Linked DNA regions of Homo sapiens: all the other regions are reported to be linked to region 1. Evidence: microRNA targets listed by miRTarBase, many of them from high-throughput screens and not tested one by one. Region 1 holds a microRNA gene; each other region holds the end of a gene's coding sequence.
The links. The annotated mature microRNA hsa-miR-510-3p reads AUUGAAACCUCUAAGAGUGGA and lies in region 1 at 3,242-3,262, shown strand. An mRNA with a match to its seed (bases 2 to 7 or 8) in the 3' UTR can be bound and repressed. Matches are read on the target gene's strand: a 7mer-m8 pairs with bases 2 to 8, a 7mer-A1 pairs with bases 2 to 7 and ends in A, and an 8mer does both.

Region 2: the mRNA of MCTP1 is a reported target of hsa-miR-510-3p. Seed matches in the 3' UTR shown: 7mer-A1 at 4,711-4,717 and 7mer-A1 at 1,410-1,416.
Region 3: miRTarBase lists NSUN7 as a target of hsa-miR-510-3p. Seed matches in the 3' UTR shown: 7mer-A1 at 885-891 and 7mer-A1 at 1,674-1,680.
Region 4: the mRNA of RPL22L1 is a reported target of hsa-miR-510-3p. Seed matches in the 3' UTR shown: 8mer at 1,715-1,722.

The regions. Positions count from the first base shown.
Region 1 is chrX:147,269,454-147,275,603 of GRCh38, reverse strand. MIR510 (microRNA 510) reads left to right here and starts at 3,196; the gene lies at 3,196-3,269. It overlaps LOC105373347 (periphilin-1), which reads right to left. Exons shown (of 4, transcript XR_005647084.2): 4 at 3,709-4,721.
Region 2 is chr5:94,702,335-94,708,484 of GRCh38, forward strand. MCTP1 (multiple C2 and transmembrane domain containing 1) reads right to left here. Exons shown (of 23, transcript NM_024717.7): 23 at 1,356-5,233. The coding sequence ends at 5,162. Among named protein-coding and RNA genes, the nearest start is that of SLF1, 87 kb to the left of the region's middle. RefSeq lists an enhancer at 814-883.
Region 3 is chr4:40,808,099-40,814,248 of GRCh38, forward strand. NSUN7 (NOP2/Sun RNA methyltransferase family member 7) reads left to right here. Exons shown (of 12, transcript NM_024677.6): 12 at 209-3,086. The coding sequence ends at 841. It overlaps APBB2 (amyloid beta precursor protein binding family B member 2), which reads right to left. Exons shown (of 18, transcript NM_004307.2): 18 at 1,929-6,150. Among named protein-coding and RNA genes, the nearest start is that of NSUN7, 61 kb to the left of the region's middle. RefSeq lists an enhancer at 1-68.
Region 4 is chr3:170,861,522-170,867,671 of GRCh38, reverse strand. RPL22L1 (ribosomal protein L22 like 1) reads left to right here. Exons shown (of 4, transcript NM_001099645.2): 4 at 1,148-2,797. The coding sequence ends at 1,292. Among named protein-coding and RNA genes, the nearest start is that of RPL22L1, 5.6 kb to the left of the region's middle.

The sequences.
Region 1 (6,150 bases):
GCCATTCATATATCTGCTTTGTTGAATTGTCTGTTAAGGTATTTTCCCCATATTTATTGAGTTGGGAGAGTTTTTATGCATTCTGAATTCAATTTATTTGTCAGATATGTGATTTTTTTTCTTTCTTTCTTTTTTTCTGTTTTTTTTTGAGACGGAGTCTCACTCTGTCACCAGGCTGGAGTGCAGTGGCACGATCTCGGCTCACTGCAGCCTCTGACTCCCTGGTTCAAGTGAGTCTCCTGCCTCAGCCTCCTGACTAGCTGGGATTACAGGCGTGTGCCACCATGCCCAGCTAATTTTTTGTATTTTTAGTAGAGACAGGGTTTCACCATGTTGGCCAGGATGGTCTCAATCTCCTGACCTCATGATCCGCCTGCCTTGGCTTCCCAACGTGCTGGGATTACAGGCATGAGCCACCGTCCCCGGCCCAGATATGTGATTTTCAAATATTTTTTCTTAGTCTGTGGTTTACTTTTGCATTCCCTTAACCATGTGTTGTACAGAGCAAACTTTTTTTTTTTTGTATTTTCATAAAGGATGATTCACCATTTGTTATTTTATGGTTTACATTTTAATGCCATATCTTAGAGTGTCTAAATTTAGGTACGTGATTCTTGGTTGACTGTTTTCCTTTTAGCACTATAAATGTTATTCCAGTGTCTTCCGGCCTCTATGGTTTCTAATGAAAAGTCAGCGAAATATATTGTAGAGGATCCCTTGTATGCATTAAGTTTATTTTTTCTAGTAGATTTCAATATTCTCTTTTTTTGTCACCAAAAAGTAGATATGTCTCTCAGCTTGGATTTCTTTTGTTTATGCTACCTGTAGTGTTTTGCACTTCTTAGGTATAATAAAAAATGTTTTTCATCAAATTTAGATATTCACAGCCATTTTTAAAAAATACTTTTTTGCTCCTTTCTATCTTTCACTTCTGCTACCTTAATATGCGTATTTTGATGTGCATGCTGGTGTTCTGCCTTTCTCTGAGGCACTGTTCATTTTCTTCACTCATTTTATTCTTTTATTTTTATAGAATTATCACTTTCAAGGTATCTTAAAGTTCACTGATTCTTTTTTCTCCTGAGTCCTTCTAGTGAATTTTTCACTTCAATTATTTTACTTTTATACTCCATAAATTCCTTTTCTTTAAATATTTCTACCTCTTTATTGATAGACTCTTTTGATGAGGCATTGTCAACATAGCTGCCTTTACTCTTCCAAGCACCATTTGTTTAGTGTTTTGAAAATACTTACAGTGGATGCTTTAAGGTTGTTGTTAAGTATAACATTAGGCTCTGTTGCCAGCATTTTCTGTAATCTACTTTTGTCCTGTGTGTTATATTTTTATTTTCTCTGTATGTCTGAGAATGTCCAGTTGAGAACTGGATATTTTATTAATATATTATAGAAGTTTTGGATGCAGATCTTGCTTCTGGGGATTGTTGTTGTCTGATTTTTTTATTTGTTGATTTACTTGGCTGTGCTGTTTTAGTAAAATCTATATTCTTTTTATTGTGAAAACCTAATGTTGTTCCTTGCAAGGTATAACTTTGGATATGTACACAGTCACTCTAAACTGTCGTGATTTTAGTAGAGTTCTTTGTTCTTTTGCTGCTCTTTCTGTTAAGCTGCCTGCCTCTGCGGTATCACACACAGGTAATAAGCTTCAGTGTTTGCAGGTGGATTATTTTGTAGCTTTTGAGAATACCATGGGCAAAAATTGCTTTAGAGTCTTATCCAAATACTTTGCAGATAATTTTTGGGGCAGGTCTCTAAAGGCTATTCTCCTACCAGAAAGGCTCTTATTAGCTGTCTGTTTCCTGATTCCAGTTCCATCCTAATTACTTGGCACCACAGTCTACATTATTTGTGAGACCTTTCTTGTCTTCTGTTACAACTGAAGTCATTTTCTTTTGAGAAGGAAAGCTTTAATGCTTTTTCTCTTAGGGCTAGCCTCTCTCAATGGACAAATCCCTGAGCAGTTGCCCCAAGCTGAGAATAAGGCAGTGTCCTGCTTCTTGTACACTGACACCCCTGCTTTACAACCAGGGTGATGAGTGATAGCAGTGGATTCTAGTGTTCTGGTTTGCCTCACCCAAAGTGGAAGCTCCCCCTGATGATTAAGCTGAGATGAGGAGTATTACGTACTCAATTATCTCCGCCGGCTGCACCTGGTATAGAGCCTAAACCCTGTGATGAAGAATGGCTATAGTAGCAGGCCCCTGACCTCTAACCTCACATGCCTAGTATTTAGCCTCTGAAACACTAAACTGGGTTTGTGGAGTGGATGAGAAATTCTGGAGGCTTCTTAAACCCACAAGTATATTGTTGCTCTTGATTAGGAGATAGGGGAACAGGTAATTTTGTAAGCCACAGTCACTTTAAATTCTCAGTTCTCAGTCTCTGAAATCCAGTCACCAAAATTGTGTCCATATTTTTGTGTGTGCTAATTTTAGTTTTGCAGGGAAACACAGTCACCTAGTAGCATGTGTCTCAGATTGGAAAAATGCAAACACATGCTAAAAAGAACCTTGCTCCCAGAAAAGACGAAGAAAACCCAGAAACTGAAAAATCTCTAAGAGTGTCTGGGTGCCTAGCACAATTTCTGTTTTGTAGATCACTCCTGGTAAGTAAAATGGGATTTTTTTTTTCACTTCAAAATTTGATGAGGATAAAAGAAATTCTACTCTCTCCATCTTACCACTCACTGATTATTCTCTCTTCTTTGCTTCCAGGATCCTGTGTGATGTCCTTGCTTATTCTGTAGTGAGGAGTTGTAGTAAGGAACTCAGGTAGAAGAACTCAGATCTTTGGATGATAGGCACAGATTGGTGAGATAGAGTGTAGTGTCTGGGTAGCTACTGAATCTGGGGAATGCAATCTACTCATTAATACTTTATATAAAACAATGGGAAAAGAAATAGAATAAGGCATCGAATGAGATTTTTCCCGTTAGCAGGAGAGCCTAGCAGGAAGGTTCTTAGTCCTGAAAACTGCCATGTGAAAACTCCAAACCATGAGTGGACAACACTCAAGGGGGAATGAGTGAATAAAAAATGATGTAGGTTCTTCAGGAATCATTTACATAAATGCCAACGGCCACTTACAGACTGAAAACATTTGAGAGGTTGTTTGAAAAGTGTGTGATTAAGTATTTAGGCTGTGCTCCCATTTTCAGGAATGCTGTGTATGTGTGTGGTGTCCTACTCAGGAGAGTGGCAATCACATGTAATTAGGTGTGATTGAAACCTCTAAGAGTGGAGTAACACATGACATGTACTACATATGCAATGATATTGCAGATATTTAGTTGCATGCAGTGGTATGCTTTTCTTAGCACATAGATAGTCCATCTGGTACCCTCCTCAATACTAAACTAGCTGGGGAGTTTCTAGATAAACTTCTGAAGACAAGACATAGGAAATAAAGGTTTTGGGAAAAAGTGTTTCACTGATTTCTTAGGGGCTTCATATCCTTCTTTACAAACTTGCAAGACTAAAATGGGAAAAAAGCCTTTTAGTATGGTCATGGTGTTCCTATCTGCCTGTGAATTTTTTTTTTTTTTGATAACCCTTACCTGCGGGGTCCATCCCACAGACCCTGGCCAAGCAACGGATGAAAGGAGTACTCAGCCACAGGCATGCAGTGTAAGAGCAGCTACAGGAATGCCCAGCACTAATGGCTGAAGAGTGAGCAGTCTCGAACAGCTGGAGCTGCTTGCTTTTATTCAGTACAGACAAAATAATGAAAGCCTGGAGCCAACACAATCTGTGGGTAATTAACATTATTATTCCCCCTTTCAGGGAGCAGTCTCCTGCCCTGATGATCAAAGTCGGTTTCCGGACAATGTAAGTAAACAAGCCTGTTTATGCCAAATTCCCCTATACTTCCTTACCTACCCCTTGCCCTCTGCCTCAGGGTAAGAGAACAGCTGCCTTCAGCTTATTCATCCCTGAAGCTATCCAGAGCCTTCCCGCCTTTCAGAAGGTCTGTTCCTTTCCCTATACCTTCTCCTACCACTCTGACCGATCTCCCGCGTCTCCCCCTTTTCTGTTTTTAGCATCGGGTTTTGTTGATTGAATAGTACAGATGTGTGCAGTGACAGATTTGACAGGCGCAGCGGTTACAGCTCGTGTTCCGGCTTTGCATCCTAGAATTAGTAAATAACATAAGTCAAACATTAGTATAGTCACTATTATTCTTTTCCAATCAAGGAGAGATATGTAGTGTTACTTGGCACCTCAGTTCAATGTGTGCCATTATTAAGGAACCCCACTGGGGGCATGTCAACCCCTCCCAGCTAAGCAGTTACATTATTAGAGGATGGGAAGGGGGTGTCTGCCAAGGTAACAGGTTGGAAGAAAGGCAGATCTTAGAAGATGGGCCCAATAGAATGTAGCAGGTATGAGTTGCAGGCAAAGTGAGAGAATAAGAAAGGTGAATACCCTATGAGAGTTGCAAGGTACAATAGAGAGCATAGCAAGGAACAGATTATCTGGAGTGATGGTGTCTGTGTCCAGAGAAGGATTCACTCGGCCTCCTGAGTTGTCTTCTTCAGCTTCCCCCAGGTAATGTCTGGGGCCTGTGTCATCGGAGGAAGCCACATCGTCTGGGGCTGCGGGTCCTGCAGCGTCGTTTCCTTTATTTTTGATACCAGCTTGGGTCTTAGCCACGCCATGGTATGGTTTGATGTGTCTGTCACACTGGAATACAAAGAGGACCTGAGGGCGTGTGAACACAAGCATATTCTCTTCCCCAGGTCAGCAAATCATTTGGACCACACCATAGATTACTATTAACTTCTTTCCATAAAACCATGGGTTTTATGTCTTGAGGGGCTTTTGCAAAATGCTTTTCTATGGCTGATTGAAATTTATCTAAATTAAAAAAATTAAGGGTAAATAAGGCTTATGCTAGTAGTGTTGCAGCATCCTTACTCATATTCCCCCTTGTTTTCTGAGCATATTTTTAAGGGTGGAATGGGCATGTTCTACTATGACTTGTCCTTGGGATTTGTACGGGATGCCTGTGGATGTCACATATTGGACATCCATGTGTGACAAAATTGGTGAAATTGTGAGCTGGTGTAAGCTGGACCATTAGTAGTTTTAATTTTTGTGGGCCGCCCCATAAACGCAAAACTTAAGAGAATATGTTTAATGACATACTGGGCAAACTCTCCGGGAAGAGCATGAGTGCTAATTAGGTGGGAATTGGTATCAATGGATATATGTACATATTTTAGTTTTCCAAATTCAGGGATGTGCGTAACGTCTGTTTGCCATAACTGATTAGGTTCTAGTCCTCTAGGGTTAACACGTGTTGATGGAGGGGACATGCCTCTGAGCTGGCCTTTCATTAATGATAGCTGGTATTGTAAATGCAAATTTTTCTCTGTCCTGTTTTGCAAGGGGAATAGTGTAAAAGCAGTCTTTAAAGTCAATAAAACAGTCTTTTGAGTCAATATGGGCCAACCTTGAGGAATCACCATGGGGGAAGGGATCCCCTGTTGAAGGGGCCCCATAGGTTGCAAATTAGCATTGATGGCAGGTAAGTCATGCAAAAGTTTCCATCTAGCAGACCTTTTGGGAATGATGAAAATGAGTGATTCCAAGGGCCGTTTGACGGTTCTATATGGCTGGCTTTTAATTGTTCTTCAACTAATTCATGGGCTGTTTGTGATTTCTCTCCCTTTAAAGGCCACTGTTCAACCCAAATAGGATCTTGAAAGAGCCATGTCAGGGGTCGGGGAAGAATAACAACAGTGGCCATTATTAGAAAGGGGCCATATGGAAGTTGTTTGCTATGGCCTCGATTAATCCTCGTGTAAATGGGCTAGCGGCTCTGTTTTCTCTAATGCTTTTTTGTTATTTCTTTATAAGTGTTGAAACTAATGGATTCACGTACCCAGTTGCCTTGTTGATCTTGCATCACCGGGCAGGCCAAGAGTTCCCCTTCTAATGCCACTTGCCTAGGACTGTAGTGTATCCTTTGTCTTTTTTGCAATTTATTGGGGTGGGGGCGGGGGGTGCTCAGGGAAAATCTGTGTCTCCTCTCTGGCAGCTTTACCTGGTAATAGTGGGGCTGAGGGAGGAGGAGGAGGCGGTAAGGTAGGTGATGGTTCCTCCTCCTCCCTTCCCTTTTTAGGCT
Region 2 (6,150 bases), not on the chromosome of region 1:
ATGTTTTGATTTTTAAAAAAAGTTTTTCTCTTACTTCTGAAAATGAATGTTTTTAAAAGTGATGTTAAGCAATTTCACACAAATAATGGAACATCACATTAATCTGTTTAAAAACTCCTTTGTCAGATATGTATAGTGTTTTCTGGATGGCTTCTCGTGTGCTTCAAAGACCCTCTTATGTTTGCTAGGTTCTCTGTTAATGGAAACTGAAGTTTGTAAGAGTTTAAGGCCAAACGTAAGAGGTAGGTATACCATTGTGTTTTTTTGCTCAGAAATTGTTAACTACTTCCTCTATTATAAAACAAAGATGACAAAATTACATACTCCGCCTTGTATAATAGCAAATAGACACTTCTTTGTAAAATTTTTCCAAGAGCTTATTAGTTCTTGACACCGATAAATTGTTTTCCATGGTTGCAGTGTTACAAGGTACACAGAGATTTTGACTTTTCATAATTACTACTATAGAAAAGAAGAATGTTTTGTGGGGCATGTAGTTATAAGGTTTCAGTTCTCTGATAGCTTTATTAAAAAGGGTTCTTTGAGCTTGGGACAAATATGTCATTTCCTTCCCCTCATCTCTCTTCTGTGGTCCAGCTGTCTCTAACAATGCTTGACTATTCTCAGGTGTCTCCAGTAATGCAAAAGGCAAGTATGAGTAGTGAGGGCCAGGTGTGCTTTTTCTATGAATTTAGCATTTCCTCCAAACCTGTCACCATTTGAACTCTGGCAAAATAAAATCCCTCAAATGGACTCAAGCCCTTTTGAGCTTGTCTTTGACTAGAAAGTGAAACTGAACCTATATTATCATCTTTCTTCACTAGTGGGAGCAAGTTCCCACTAGCAAGTGGGAGTGAGTTCCACTCAGCCAGGCCTCAGGATCTCCTTAAATGTATTCCTCCAGAGAAAAGATAGTTTTCAGGTTCACTCATTGGTTCAGGTTGGCCACTCCTTTTCTCTTTGGAAGGAACATTGAAGAATCTGTAGTAGGGGATAATTGCACTGCAATTTTAATTTTGCTACATACTGAAAAAACGTAGGCACGGCTACTTACGTAAACCATTTCCGCTTTCCTTGAAACAAATCTTTCTGCCTAATATAATAAACACTTAATTGACTAAAGCAGAACAGCAGTGTATTTTACTTTGTAAAAAATGGAGTAATAATTTTTCAGTGACATTTGGAGGTACGGATAATCATATAAATTTAAAAACCTGTCTTTACAAAAATACTGCTTGTGCATGTAATAGAACACTTCTTTTGTATGGGTTTTTGGTGGTTTTTTTGTTTTTTTCTTTTTTTTTTTAAGCTTAGAATGTCAAAGAAGAGCCCAATAAATTGAAACTCATTTGAGGTCAGTTACAATATTTGATTGTTTTTATTTTTTGATTCTTAACCCAGATCCCTCCTTTGAAAAGCACAGATAGAATCATTAAGTTCCAGGAAACCTTTCATGGTGCTCTTAGTTTCTACATTGTATGATTGCTTTGGACATTTGATAGTTTTTATTTGCATACTATTTTTTAATGAGATTTTTCAATAGTATTTCTCAAATTTTAGCCATTCAGCTGAAGTAAATCTTATGTGACTGCCTCTATTCAAATTGCCACTATATAAAAGAAACTGAGGTACCAGAGGGTAACATTTTCACCAAAAAAAAAAGAAAAAAAAATGTTTTGTTTTCTTTCAGTGAGTTACACCAATCATCCCAGGAAAAAGAATTATAATTGAAAGGAATGACACTATTGTAAGAAAGAATTTACCACATTATTTTCTATGTGGTTTTAATTCATACTTTACTGAGCAATTAGAAAAGGCTGATTCTAGATACCCTAATCAAACCAACGAATAGACATCATCTGTACACTCACTCACACTAGAGTGTGAAATCACGCTATTCATTTAAAGCCCAAGAATTTAAGCAAGTATTAATTTAGCAATACCTGAGACGTTTTTCAAGAAGTATAATGGTAGCTGTCTTTACTTGTATTTCTGGAGCAAAAAGGTATAACTGCCTTATACCTTTTTGTTTGTTCTTAATGCTTAGTCAACATTATAAACATTTAGGCCCATTTAACAAGTTTATTCGCTGAAATTACTGCCTTTGAATAACATTAATACAAATGTAGACTACTTTGAGCATAGGAGACCTTAGATATGAGATCAAAGTGGAAAAAAAGCTCCTGTGGTCCCTAGATAAGCATTTACTTCTGAGTTTTTCTTCACTTTTAAATGCAGAATAAAAATTTTATAAAAGATAATTTTAGAAATGTATCAATTAAATTTGGCTCTCACTGTACTTCAACTCCAGATTTGATTTTAGTATACAATCATTGGTTTGACCGTTGTCTATAACAGGGTCATACAGTTGGTATTCGATAAATATATCACAGAGTCCTTTTAAGAATCTCCCAACTCAGATTATCCTAGTGCATATAGAATGTTCAAAAACTGATTGATTGATTGATAGGTTCTGTAGGAATTCCAGTTTTTGAACATTCTATATGCACTAGGATAATCTGAGTTGGGAGATTCAATCAATCAATCAGTTTGAGTCTGGAACAGTACCAGAATGAATGAGAAGTACTATTATGTTCTTTTTGATAAGTGGGGAAAAATTTAAAAGCACAAATACGCATTTCTTATGAATTATCACAACGAATGTCAGTAATAGTTTATGAATATAAATAATGACTCAGTGAATTTACTCACTAAAAGATACTAAAGGAATATATTTAGTAGTTCACAATATCTATAATAGTTAGCAGTCCAAGTAGATGTTTGAGTGACATTCAGTCTCTTAAGAAATATTTACATCACAGATCTCAAAATGAAGGCAAGTCAGGCAGCTCTCAAGACAGAATTGCAGCTATGTGAGAAGGGGAAAGAAATAAATAGTTAAAATTTTAACTATACATATTCTGTTTTCAGCCTGTGAATGTAGTAGTTTCTAAAAGCAATGAAGATTTCCCTGAATATCACTTTTGTGCCTCAAGCTAGTTCTTATTCCTCTGTTAATGTCATTGGTTGCTCACCCCTCCAGAGGTATTTTCATATAAGAGTCAGAGTTTCAGGAAAAAGGTCTTATTTGTTTAAACCAAATCTGTTTTTCTCCAAGTGACATATAGTTTTTAAGAATATGCACACAATCCCTCATCAATCTCTGAACCACCAAAAAAAAAAAAAAAAGGAGTGCTGATTATACGTGGGAAAGATTATTTTCTTTTGTATTTAATACAGTGAATGTGTAGTCAGCATTACCATTGAACTAAACATCTGAAATTTGATACAGTGAAACAAATTAGTCATCTGTTAATGGTTACTATCCACTAGATACATCTGAGGTTGTAGAATATCAGGCTTATAGACATTTGAGTACACATTGTCAGCACAGAACATAAAAGTCTCACATAAGGTATAATTGAAAGTTATTTCAAACAGTTATCTCATCAATAAACTTTCTGTAGTAACATCATGTTCATGGAACATTATGTTTTTAGCAACAAACAGTGATGGTATGCAGACAGAAGCATGTCATTTTAAACATGATACATTAAATAAAGCATGTTGAGGTCAAAGCCTTTCTGTAGAAAGGGAATTTAATTGACATTCAAGCATAGTATATAAACAGATCAAAATAGTTCTATTATAAGAAATAGTATTTAACAACTTATCTCTAAAATAAAAATACTTTAAAAATCAGCTTCAATGAGATTACATTTATTGTTAAAGAATCTTCCTTTAGAGTGAAATATACATTTCTTTTAGCTTTTCTATAGTTTTTCCAGTATAACCCCCACTTTTACCCCATCCAAGTTTATTATTAATAAAGTAGTGCAAAGCATTGTCTGCTGCAATTTCAACTGAGTGTAGTCCCCTACCAAGTCAGGGAAGTAAGACATTCTCAACCAACCAAATTATTTTTTCTCCAGAGTTATGCTCCCTTAGTATACCAGGGAGTGAGATATAAAAACTACTTTAAGAGTCTTGGGAATGCAATTTTTAAGTATAGATTCTATGATAATAGTGAAACATTGATAAAGGCAACCACCACCCCCAAGCAGTTTATTTTATTTTACAAAACAGGTTTTCATGCATAATCAAGAATGATTTTTTTTAATAAATGAATGTAGTGAAACACTGGCATATCACTTAGCACACTGAATTCTCTACATTAAAATTCACACTAATAACAAAATCATAGTATGAATTAAAGCATTTCAGTAATCTAATGAGAAAGCAGGTTTTTTTTTTCTCTGAGAGCACTTGAGTATTTATTAAAATATTTTTAGATGCACAGATACAATCTGACACCAAAAGCGATATGGATATAGTTTCCTAGTATTTTTGATAACTGTACTTACTGGGTTGCTAATTTGCTAACTAACTGTATAAATTAAAGTAGTGGTAGGTATAAAAATTCAGATAGGCAATCGTTTATAAACTGGCAGTATTTATGTTATGTAGTCCTGTAGAGATTTTAAGGTTTTAGATGGAATGATTGATTGAAATTCTATAAAGAAAACTTTGTAACCTTCTGAGTATTGATTCTCTTGAGGGAGTGAATGTACCTTCACTTATTAGCTTAAAATTAGCCTAAGTCATACCTAAGTAATTTGCACAGGAGTGAATGTCGGGATCTAAAGCCAGAATATATGTTAAATTGAAATGTATCCATTCCATTATTCAGGCTTTGGAATTTCCCTCCCTTTTGAAATGTATAAAACATAGAAAAGTGTAATGGATTACTTTTCAGATAAAAAATAGTCGCATTAAAAAAAAACTTTAAAATCAAATCGACATTTACAATTGATGTAGATTTAATCAGAGCACAGGTGAGTATTTAATCCACTAGTAATTAGATAAGAATATATCTTCCAGTGTTATCATTCTTATATTTGTTCTTTCAGTGTGTTATATTATTATCCACAGCTAACAAGGTTTTGACACAGCAGTAGCAAAACCTTTATCAAGTTGAGTCTGTACAATAGAAGTATATATTCAAAGACATATGCCTTTGTACACTATTTACAGATTCTCTCGATCATGATAAAAAGGCAAAATAAATAAAAAGCAGAAAGAAAGGAAATGCTGCTGAGGCTGAGGGCTTTTTCTTTTATCTTCCCAAACAGATGCTGGTCTCCTCAGTGCTGGGAGCTGGCTAGCCAAGATTGTTTTTCTTTCTTTTATATGGGCTATGAGAAGGATCTGGTTTCAGTTCTTGGTATTGCACCTGTTTAAACAGAGTTCAGAGGAAGACTGGTCAGGTGGCCACTTTCTGGCAAAGAAAGGAACAGCAAAGGAATGAGAGACGGTGCTTGGGGGAAGAAAGTGCTCACTCTAGAAGCTGTATGGGATCTGCAGCTGAGATGCAGAAAGCAATAGAATGACAGAGCAAGAATAAGGGAAATCCTGTTGGAAAGTACATGGGGCCCTGATGTGAACTTTAGTAATGGTATTCACTGTCTATAACACATTACATTAAAAGTAAAACCATCTACATCAATTTTTTAAAGGGCTCGATAATGGTTTTTTACAATTTATCGTGTGTTTGCTTAATACAGTCTTAATCTCCATCCAGCCCACTGTCATGTCATAGCAAATGAAAAAGGTATCACTGTAACCCAGCTTCAGGATTTAAAAAAAAAAAAACAAACTTCTTTTATTTTGAAAACAGCTGATGGTTAATGGGCATTAACCTCAAAGGATTTTTGAGATATGCTCCACTCTTCAAAAAGCAGTCAGCTTTCCTCTCCTCATTGATCTCCAAAATATACTTCTTCAAAACTTACTTGTAACTCTTGCAAATTCTGGAAAGACTTTTTTTTCTTAAATGTCCACTGGCATATTTTGCTTTCATCATCTAATATTCCTGGTTTCCTCCCCTCAGGTCATACTCCCTGTCACAAACTCCAGCTGAACTAACTTGGAGGAGGATCTTCCCTGACAGCTCTGGTAGGTTCTTTATGCAACTGCTCTTTCTCCCATTCTCTGTAAGTGCTTCTTGGATAACACCCCAGGTGGGCTAAATTTCTGACTGGTAAAATCTGCTACACAGGCTTTATTAATTTTTACTCAGCTCTTCTAAAGCCTTTGAAATTAGAAGGATATAAAAGCTAAAACCCCATGCCACACTACATTAAAATAATA
Region 3 (6,150 bases), not on the chromosome of region 1:
GGAAGTTTAAGTTTTTTTTTTGTTTGTTTTTTTAAAAAGGCATTCGCTGAGGCTTATGAGATTGGGGACTAAGGCCTAAAAACTATTTCTTATTTCTTTTAGTATAATAAAGAGAGTCTTTTTATTTTTACTGATACATTGATAAATATTTGCGGGAGACACAATAATAGCTAACTCCCACATTTAGTAAATGCTTCTTTAATTGCAGCGGGACCCTTCTGAGACAGTGTCTGTGAATGATGTTTTGGCCCGAGCTGCAGCCAAGGGTCTGCTGGATGGGATTGAGTTGGGTAAATCATCAAAACGGGAGAAGAAGAAGAAAAAATCAAAAACATCATTGACAAAAGGTGCCACTACTGATAATGGCATCCAAATGAAAATTGCTGAGTTCCTGAATCGAGAAACTAAAGCCAGTGCTAATCTATCAGAGACTGTAACAAAACCACCTCTTCCCCAGAAAAATACTGCTCAAGTGGGGGCTTCCTCACAGACCAGAAAACCCAACAAGCTGGCCCCCCATCCTGCAGTGCCTGCATTTGTGAAGAACACTTGTCCCTCCAGACCGCGTGAACGGCAGACACACTTCTTAAGACCTCGGCCAGAAGACAGAATGGTTGCTCTGAAACCCATCAAGATTGTTCTGCCTCCAGTCTTTATGCCATTTTCAAGTCCCCAAGGGATCAGATCTCGGATGCCAACTCAACATTTGTACTGTCGTTGGGTTGCACCCAAGGCACTTGTGCCCACCTGCCTTCCCACACACTCACTATCCAGAAAAGAGGAAAAGCCTAAAGATGACACACCTTCCTCCCTACTCAGGCCTCCTCGGCGATGGCTTTGATTGTCTTGTGTTTTTTATAGGGGCCAAAGAGCAGTTGATTTTTTTTCAAAGTCTAGTATTTCTCTGAAGATTCTACATCTCTACACAAGATATTCATTCTTTTGGTCACCTAGGGATCTTCTAAGTGTGATATTACTTTCAGAGAATTCAGACAAGTGAGAAACAATAATGTAGGAGTCAGCAAAGCAGAATTCAGAGACTTCAGCCAATCACTGCTGCTCTGAGAGGATCCAGTTAGAGACTCAGTATCAGCGGTCAGAACTTATCTCACTCCTGTGAACTTTCAGGCTGGACTTAAAGCTGCCAAGTTTCCCCTGCAGGGAAGGAAACACTGCCTCCCTTCAGCAGGTAGCTCATTAGAAAGCCAAACAGGCAAACGATCCTGGCCTCTCCCGCCAGCTGACCGCTCTTCAGCATCCATGCGGTTGTAGTCGTGACTTTCTCAGTCACGATCAAGGGTGATTTTTTCTTAAATATCAAGCTGTTCTTTGAACAGGGAATGAACATGAGTTTTTGTAACGTGACTGAAGTTGAGTTTAAGTAGGAAGCGCAGGAAGTTCCCAAGTGCCAGGTGTGTGTAGCTCAGAGTTCCTTTTACAGTGAGGTGTCTCTCACTGGGGGAGCTTCCAGGATCCTGAGCAGACTGGACACAATCATCTCTCCCTTCCTCTATGTCAAGCACTGTTACAAAAGACTGTGAGCAAATTTCCATCTAAATATTAATAATTCTGAAGAAGAGGCAAAACTGTTGAATGCAAGCGATACCTATTGTTGAAGAAACCCACAAATTTCTGATTCTAAGATCAGGGGATACAACAAAATCTACAAGTCATTTCAAATAGCACACAGGAATCAAACTTTGGTAAATCATTTCTGAGGCACAATTAAATATATTGTAGCACTATGTTAATTAATTATATTAAATGTCGATTCATCTTGAATGTATTCTCAATTGCCTACCAAAAATTGGTATGATTATCATTTCTGGGTCTACTGATTTTTCATCATGGCAACAGAAATTGTCATTAAATAGAATTAAGATACAACTATATATCTTATTATTTAAAAACATTCATAGACATATTCATAAAGTTTGAATTTAAAGTTTTATTTTTGCAATTCAGTTGTATAGAAATGTTACATAAATTCCTAAATGCTCAATTCAGGTGGCATGATTTTTAGAATATTATCTTCTTCAAGATGAATACTTAGGTCTACTTCAGCTCTGATATTCTATTTTTACTTTCTTACTTGAAGTGAGAAAAGAGAATGGTGAATTGTATTATAGCGGTAATACATTATTTTTATTTTAGCTTAGATTTACATTTATCAGTAAAACGTGTCAGTGGGCTGGGTGCAGTGGCTCACATCTGTAATCTCAGCAGTTTGGGAGGCTGAGGTGGGCACGCCACTTGAGCACCGGAGTTCCAGACGAGCCTGGACAACATGGCGAAACCCCAAAACCCCATCTCTACAAAAAATACAAAAATTAGCTGGGTGTGGTGGGACACGCCTGTAGTCCCAGCTACTTAGGAGGCTGAGGTACGAGGATCTCTTGAGTCCAGGAGGTGCAGGTTGCAGTGAGCCAATATTGCCCCACTGCACTCCAGCCTGGGAAGCAGAGTGAGACCTTGCCTCAAAAAAAAAAAAAAAAAAAAAAAAGTGTCAATGAAGAAAGGAAACAAGACTTTTTATAGTTGAACCAGGCTTATTGTATTTTAAATCCCTGAAGAAGAATTCTTCATGTTATCACTCTTGTACAGAAAGATATAAAGTGCTCAGCTTATTTTGCTGATTTTGAAAATCAAACACTATCTCCTTGCCCTAAAATTATAGCGTGTGGCTCATCCTCTTATCCCACCCAGATTTCTATCTGGTTGGTTAGGGTAGTCCATGCCTCAAGGAAGGCGGTGCAGCTTAATTTAACATATTGTTCAGTAAAGAATCCCATTGTGTATCATAAGAATCCCTTATCCTTTTCGGGCCCTCCACCATACCAGACTGAAAAGTATTCCATTGTCCAGAAGTAGCTGGTCTTGAGATTTTTATTTTCAAGTGTATTTTCTGTGATGTTGTCTCATTGTTATGGAATAGTTTAGGATAATTTTCTGATCTCTACAGTAGCATGTGAAGTCACAATTTGTTGCCACTTACATTGATTATCTCCTAACATGCATTTGGCACTAAATTATTTTTCTCTTTAGAAGTATATGAAGATTCTGAATTAAACCATTCATTAATTACACTGCAGTTTTCTTCTTTGAGAATCTTCTATGAAGGACAGGATTATTTAAATACTTTGGTAGAGTGAAAAGGGAAAAGAATTTTGGATAAAAGCAATATGAGGCCGGACGTGGTGGCTCACATACTTTGGGAGGTTGGGGCGGGCGGATCACCTGAGGTCAGGAGTTCGAGACCAGCCTGGCCAACGTGGCGAAACCCTGTCTCTACTAAAAATATACAAATTGGCCAGGCGTGGCGGTGCATGCCTGTAATCCCAGCTACTCAGGAGGCTGAGGCGAGAATTGCTTGAACTTGGGAGGTGGAGGTTGTGGTGAGCTGAAATTACACCACTGCACTCCAGAGTAAGACTCCTCTGTCTGAAGAAAAAAAAAAAAAGCAATATGAGGGAATTCTAATGAAGGAGAATATTGATTCCACTGACATGTTTCATTTGGCATTTTACATTCTTGGACTTCTTCTTGAGATAAAAGTGCTGCAAAATTCTAAATAATGAAATTACTAGTATTCAGATACTCCAATAGCAAACACATTTTTAATCTGAAATTATTTACCACCATATAATGCCTGAAACCATAATGAAATTTTGTTACTGACTAGAGAGAAACCACTGTGGAAGTGCAAGATGAACAAAAAGCGGGGACATACTTTAAATTCTGTTTATCTGCCTTCCTGCGCCTAACAGTTAAGCTAAACCAGATTCAACTGATTTCTCTAGTTACCTTTCATTTTGGATTTAGTGTGTGTACACCTCTATTCTTTATTCTTTGATGTCAGGTTCTTAAAGGAAGTGATAAACTTCTTCGTGCTAAAATATCACAATCCTAGCAAGACCGCTTACAAAAGACTCGAGTTGGTGACTAAATAGGCTTCTATGTCCGGAAGGCCAGCTGGCCTTCCTGATCACCAAATAAGTACAGGGTGATTACTCAAAATTTGAAGTTACTTCCTAGTTCTTACCAGGCAGAAATATGTAGTAACTAATCAAAGCAAAATGCTCCATTACTAAAGTGATTTCTAAGAAGTCTGAGGTAAGAATAATTTAAAAATAACTAGAGACACCGAGTTTCTATTTCTATTCCTTGTATATGTGACTAAGATGTCAGATAAATGAGCCGAACGTTTTATGCAGCTAAATTTATTCTCACAACAAATTACATTTAAATGTGTAAAAGTGGTCAACAGGAAAAGGGCATAAAGGAAAACAAAGCGTTCTTTCAGGGGAAGTAAGCTGCTCTGGAGGCCAGGAACTACTGCTTGCGTTGACACGGTGTGAGTGGGTATCTTTGCCCTGAAGCTGAAGTTAAACTTTCTACTGGCCGTGTGGCACACACGTTAGATGTGTATTAGGTTAAGCCTGGCCAACTAGAGAGCGAAGGGGCTTATTAGTTAAATTGTGCTAATATCAGTTAGGAAAATGCTTGTCATGTTGTGGTGAAATCTTGAGGAGTTTGTGTTGCAATGCCTGGGACATGAACGGGCCATACAAACAGAGGAAAGCTCTGGGGCTTCCAGGCAATGGCCTTGTGTCGAGTCATCTTACAAGTGTCCATCTTGAAATCATAAAGTGGATTTAAAAAGAAGTAGCAGTGCCACAGTTTATCACCAAGAACTTATTTTAATGGAAATGGGTCTAATGTCCCTTCATGCAACAAGACAGATGAACAAAAAACAATGGTCCTAATTAGCTATGAGTGATCTTGTATCCAGGTGGAAACAAAGGGCATGTGTACATGTATATATCTCTTAGATGAAATCACACATGTTGTGAAGGGTAGAAAAACGAAGCACCAAGCAGTGCTTTAGTCTGCAAAGGAAAGTTTTTAGCCATAGGCATGTTGGCTAGTCGTTCCCCTTGATGTTGCCAAGGAGCAGATGTATGAGGTGGCAAGTCTGTGTCTATCTAGCTGCTTTTAAAAAATAAAAGGAACTTTAAGCATTTTGCCTTTTCTTCTACATATCCCAATAGAAATGTGACTACAAATCATTACAAAACCACTTTTTAGGCAATGTATAGTTCACTGAGATTACTTAGATCTGGATACACTGGGAGATAATATCCAGGAAAGATAATACATTAACACAATAATGCAGTATATTTCAGTAAAAATAGAATAAATAAAATAAAAATATTTTAAGCTGTATTTAACAGGTTAATTAAAAATATGGTAAGACATAGAAGGCATCGTGAACATGGCTGCCTGTTTACCGAATCACAGATCTAAAGAATGCATAGATAACTGAAGTGTCACTAAGATATCAGGTAAAACATTGGCATCCTTTTACAAACAAATACACACATACTTTCATACATACTTTTTGGCCATGGCAGAAAGTGTCTGAACATACTCTTTAACATAATTTTACAAAATTAATTTGCATTTACTATACAATGCCATTTTCAAAACAAAACGTCTGCAAAGTTTTCAATATGTAAAGGCTATCATTCATCTTAATGCATCCTATAATTGCACATATAAATCAGTTTGCTACTTAAAGCTAGCTCAGAATTCTTGATCTTGAAAACAAGCAAATGTATGCCTTAAAAAATGAAGAGGGAGTTCTGGTAGAGATTTCCAATATAAAAGTGGGTAATTTGTTTAGAATTTTGAAATTTATCACACTAAAATGTTTCACTACAGCGACCGAGATGAAAGATCACTGTAAATGATTTCTGAACAGCTTTTCAAAGGGCACAGCAAGGATTTTCTTAATGCAGTAATTTCTTATGATGGCACTGGTTACTTCAGATCAGTAGTATGTCAATTGGTGAAAAACAGACTGCGTTTCTAAAGTAGCATAGTTTTGTCATAACATTGGGGTGCTAAGACAATTCCGGTCCCCCTGTCCCCCACCCCTCATGAATTCTGAGGGAATGGCAGGTAGAAAAGCCACCCACTCATTCCATCATGATCTCTGGTGGCTAAGTACCATGAGTTAGGAATGTCTACCACAAGTAGCATCTGGAAAATCTCGTAGATGGAACAGGCTGTGAATGTAGAATCCTGCCCTCTACAACACTTTTGAGGCACGCTGTAGGAAAACAGTCCTGGACTTAGATAGGGCAC
Region 4 (6,150 bases), not on the chromosome of region 1:
TTATTTATTCAGTAGAGGTAGCCAGTTAAAGTCAAAGTCTTAACATCTTGCTGCCAGTTTTTATTTGTTGAATTTATTCACCAAATATTAAATACTACATGGGCAGCACAGGACTGGGTAACCCAACAGTGAACCAAGCAGGCAGTTTACCCACCACCAAGAAACTTCTAGTGGAGAAGAGAGAGTGAAATGGAATTAATCAAGCAGTGATAAGTGCTGTAAGGGCATAAAACTAGTTGCAGAGTTTTTGGGTACGTTGGTAAGTTGGTCAGGAAATGAAATGCAGAAGTGAGCCTTGCAGTTGTTACAGGCAGGATGAACCAGAAGCCTGGCAGATTAAAGTAATAGTAACAAAGCCAGTGTGTCTGGGGTATAGTGTTCTGGGAGGAATGCATGAGATTGGAGGGTGTCTGGGGAGCAGATCTTGAAAGCCATGGGATGTGTAATGGGAAGCAATTGTTTATTGTGGCTGAAAAAGACTAGGGTGATACATCTGGTGGAAACTGAAGATGTAAGAGCTAATTTCAGTGAGAGACAATGATGGCTTGGACTAAAGTGGTTGCAGTACATGTTAACTGAGATTATAATCACTAAGGATTCAGAGATAAAAATGTAGTAGCTGTAGTAGCTGTAAATCAAGTATCTTACAGATAATCAGATAATTATTGTAAAATACAACTCTAGTTACATTAGATGTAGAGAGAGCCCAAGAATTTTCAGAGAAGTTGAGACTTAATGAGCATAGTATGGGTTTAACCCTATTATTAATAGGTTGCCTGTTGAGCCGGGGTGGGATTGGGAGCTAGGGGGCTTGATAGTGGTGAAGGAGGTGTTAACGTTTTCACATATATATACACAGATAATATATTTGAAGAGTGAAATCATATTGCTTAAATAATTTGGCTGTAGCAGTTTGACAAGAGAATGCTACCCTAACAATCTTGAACAATATATAGTGTGGCAGTATGACAAGAGGATGCTACCCTAACAGTCTTACACAATACATCCTGTGAATGGAAGGATGAAATATTTTGGAGGAAGCTAGGTACAGAAAAGATGAATATGATGATGTATATTTTTCGTATAGTAAACCTTTACATAGTAGGAATTGTATTTCTTAATGAAATTTATGTTTTTATTTTAAAAGGTATTTGAAATACCTTACCAAGAAATACCTTAAGAAGAACAATCTTCGTGATTGGCTTCGAGTGGTTGCATCTGACAAGGAGACCTACGAACTTCGTTACTTCCAGATTAGTCAAGATGAAGATGAATCAGAGTCGGAGGACTAGGCAAAGGCTCCCCTTACAGGGCTTTGCTTATTAATAAAATAAATGAAGTATACATGAGAAATACCAAGAAATTGGCTTTTAGTTTATCAGTGAATAAAAAATATTATACTCTTGAACTTTTGTCTCATTTTTTTGAGTATGCTGTTTATATGATTTTGATTTCCCTCTGATAACTATCAACAGTATTTAAATAGCTTATAGCTGGTATAATTTTTTCCCACGATTTCCAAAATCTTTTATGTACTCAGGTAAAAGTAGCGTTATATAGGAAATCTTTTTTTTAGACACTCTCGTTCTGTCACCCAGGCTGGAGTGCAGTGACTCAGCTTCCTAAATAGCTGGAATTACAGGTGTGAGCCACCATGCCCGGCTAATTTTTTGTACTTTTAGTAGAGTAGGGTTTGGCCATGTTGGCCAGGCTGGTTTCAAACTCCTGACCTCAAGTGATCTACCCACCTCGGCTTCCCAAAGTGCTGATTATAGCTGTGAACCACCATGCCCGGCCAGGAAATCTTACTGTAGAACAATTTTTTATATAGCTGTATAAAATGTATATGATTGTCTTGACAGTCTCAAATACTGTTTTTAATAGCTTGTAAATGTAATCTCAAGTGCTTAGAACAGTTCTTACATATAAGTTGCTCTGTAGTTTGCTCTTATAGTTAGCCCAAAGACTCTGGGTGTGAGGCCTGCTGTAAACCAATGTTAAACTGCTTATTAGAAAGCCCTAACCACCTGCTTTGTAGGCACCAGAAACTCAAAACCAAATCTCAACTCAGCTACAGAATCTACTGTGGTCCTTGTCTGAAAAAATTAGTTCACTCGGTTGGAATCTTGTCTCAGAGCATCCTCATCTCTTTCTCAAAAGCCCCTACCCCAACACCGGCGTGTTGGTTGTCTATTGAAACTTACAAGTGGATGGACCCTTTCTCCCGAATAAACTGGCCTTTGAAAGCTCTAATCGAAATGGTTTGGCAAAATCCATACTGCAGGAGATTAGGGAGGACAAGAATGATGTGCCTTTTTGTACTGCTGAGCCTGATGGTGGTGCCACTACTTCAGGTACTTAGATGAGTCTTGATGCTAATAGAATTGTGTCGCCAAACATATCTGGACAGTTACAACCTAATCTATGCATTAATTGGTTTGGGAATTGCTTGAAATTATTGTTTAATTCAATGTTTTAATTCGTTTTCCTAAAAATTTAAGTGCCCCCATCATCGTGCAATACCTCAGTGCAGCAACTCCTTGATTCTTGGATGACTGAACTTCCTAACTTGGCTCTGCCCCATTGTTCCCATTTTTCATGTTTTTCACAAATAGTTAACCAGGTACCTACTACTGTGCACCGCTGCAGAGCATTGAGGATGTATGTGATGAGTAAAAACACCCAGCCTGCTCTGCTGTGTTAGTATTATGACGGAAACTGATCAAATCACATGTGAACAAATTTACTGCTACAAAAGGGAGGGCTTAATAAAAGGAATTTCATCTGGGAAGGCAAATGAAGTTTGTGAGCACTTTATAGAACAGGGAAGGTAGGCAGTATCTGGGAAGGGGAAAGTAGGGCATTCCAGACAGAGGGAGGAGCACTTCTGAAGTTCTCAGGGCATTGGGAGTCTGGTTGGCCAGAGTACATTCTGGAATAGATGTGATCATGAGGATAATCTGGAAAAGTAGAAGCTAGCCAATGCAGGACTGAAGTCCATGTTTTCATCTTGAGGGCAATGGGAGCTTGTAATGAAAGTAACGTGACCTGATGAGATATGCATTTTGAAAAAGATCAGACTGTATTGTGGAGAATGGATTTGTTGTTGTTTTGTTTTTTGAGATGGAGTCTCACTTCGTTGCCCAGGCTGGAGTTCAGTGGCATGATCATGGCTCACTGCAACCTCCACCTCCTAGGCTCAAGTGATAATCCTGCCTCAGTCTCCCGAGTAGCTGGGATTACAGGTGCCTATCCCACGCCCAGCTAACTTTTGTATTTTTTTTAGTAGAGATGAGATTTCACCATGTTGGCTAGGCTGGTCTTGAAATCCTGACCTCAAGTGATCCACCTGTCTCGGCCTCCCAAAGTGCTGGGATTACAGGTGTGAGCCACCGCACCAGACCTGTTCTCAGTATTTTACATGAATTGAATCATTTATCATCATAACATTCTTTTGAGATAAGTATTAATATCCACATTGGCAGCTAGGGAAACTGAGGAACATAGAGTTAAGTAATTCGTCCAAAGTCACACAGTAAGTTATGCAACCCAAAGTTGAGAAAGAGGGTAGCTTTGGGAAATCGGACAGGGACAATGCAAATTTTAAGGTTAAATTGCATTTAGGAAGTAATGAACAGTGAGGATGGGTGAAATTGCCTGACAGAAATGTCATGATCTGATCTAGTTTAGATTACAGTGAAGTATTTCGTTAGTCTATGACAAGAAGGAATGAGAATGCAGAGAATCTCTTAATCAGACTATGCATTTTGAGAATGTGACTTCACAGTCGTGAAGCTGACTTTATTCTGAAGGGCTGAATATTCTGAAAGAGAGCAAATGAGAATCAAGTATTGACAAACACCAATTGCTTCCTCCATTCTTTTCCTAGAGTGATCTTTCAAAAACACATCTGATATTCACATGTTTAAAATTCTTGAAAGCTAATTTAGCATTTAATATTTATTATGTGCCAGGGACTGGGTATATTATGTCAAGTAAGATATTCATGCCTTTAAGGTGTTGGGAGGTTTGTTAAATAATAAAATTTATTGAGGGCTACTGCAGGCCAGGTACTGTTTTGGATACTGAAGTAAACAAAATGGAAACTCCTGCCTTCATGAAGATTACAATCCAGCGGAGGAAGACAGACAATAAAATAAATAAAGTGTATGTTACATGGTGGTAAATGCTATGAAGAAAAATAAAGGAAATAGGGAATGTAGGAAGGAAGGTGTGTTACATTTATAAGTAGGATGAGGGAACATCCTCACTATTCCCCTCCTCACTTTACTGAGAAAGGCTCATTTGAGTAAAGACCTAAAGGAGATACTGAATCTAACCAAGTAGATGTCTTGGGGAGAAGTACTTCAGGCATAAAAAATAGCAAGTGCAAAGGCCCGAAGGCACGAGCACCCCTGGTATAATCAAGGAACAACAAGGAGGCCTCTATGACCTGAGCTGAATGAATGGTGGAGAGTAGAGATTAGAGAAGTAAAAAGAGGTATACATGGGGTGTGGAGAGTGGGATGATGGTATATGAGTTATCGATTACACTAAAGTGTAGCAACTTGAAAGAAATATATCTCACATTTCCTGAGGCTCAGGAATTGGAGCAGCTTATCTGCATAGCTCTGGTTCAGGGTTTCATGAGGTGGCAATCAAGCTGTGAGCCTGCACTGAAGTCATGGGAGAGTTACCAAACTACTGCCTGTTTTTGTAAATAAGATTTTCTGGGAACACGTTAATTTTCATGTTGTGTATGATGGAAAAGTTGAGTAGTTGCAATATAAACCACATGGCCTGCAAAGCTCGAACTATTTACCATCCAACCCTTTAAAAAAAGTGGCTTGACTGAAGCTGGAAGATCAGCCTCCATGCACACTGACAGAGCGGTTGGCAGGAGAATTCAGTTCGCCGGAATTCTTGCTATGTGGCCTCTGTATGACACTGCTGATAACATGACAGCTGGTTTCCCCCAGAGCAAGTGATCCGAGGAGGAAGAAAGAAACCAAGATGGAAGCCACAGTGTCTATAACCGAATCTCAGAAGTAACATGTCATCACCTTTTCTTTATTTTACTGATCACATAGACCAGTCTTGGAAGAGAATAACAAATACCAGGAGGTGGGGATCATTTTGGGGGGCCATCTTGGGGGCTGGCTACCACTGAGGGGATATCAAGTAGGGAGAGTTCTGTAGGCTATTACAAGGGCATCAGCTGTTTTTCTGGGTACATATAAAGTACTGGGGAGCTACAGATAGACTTGAGCAGAGAAATGTCATGATCTGATATATTTTAGATTACAGTGAAGTATTTCGTTAGTCTATGACAAGAAGGAATGAGAATGCAGAGAATCTCTTAATCTCAATCAGACTATCCATTTTGAGAATGTGACTTCACAGTCGTGAAGCTGACTTTATTCTGAAGGGCTAAGAGATTCTTAGATTTTCTTGCCTTGCAGTCTCTGCAAGAGCTGGGCAAATTTTTGTTTTCTTTTTAACTTTTTATGGTTTTTATTTATTTTTAACTTTTTATTATGAAACATTTCAATTACATATGTAAGTAGAAAAAATGTGTTTAATCTATATTCCTTCTACTCCCACATCCCCAGATTATTTTGAAGCAAGTTCCCAACATTTTATCATTTCTTCTATAAACTTATGCTTATATCTCTAAATGTAGTGTCTAAAAGATAAGGACTCTTTAAACATAACTGCCATACCATTATCACACCTATAACAAACAAATTAACAATAATTTCCTGTATTACCCAATGCCCACTCAGTGCTTAAATTTCCCCAAATATCTGGCAATTTTTAGCTTTGTACAAAGTACAGTTGTAATAAGGTCCACAGTTGCAATTAAATGTCTCTTAAACCTCCTTTAAAAGTTTGCCCCCTGCAGCCTGGGCGACAGCGCAAGACTGTCTCAAAAAAAAAAAAAAAAAAAAAAAAGTTTGCCCTCACTCTATTTCTCTCTACTCCCCCATCCCAATTTCTTTGTTTATCACACTAGGTCATTTGTCCTGTAGAATTTTCTCAATTCAGATTTTCATAATTCCCCTCCCCATAGTGTCATTTAATGTGGTCCTCTGTCCACTGTATTTCCTAAAAATTGATGGTCGGATCTAGAAGTTTGATCAATATCAG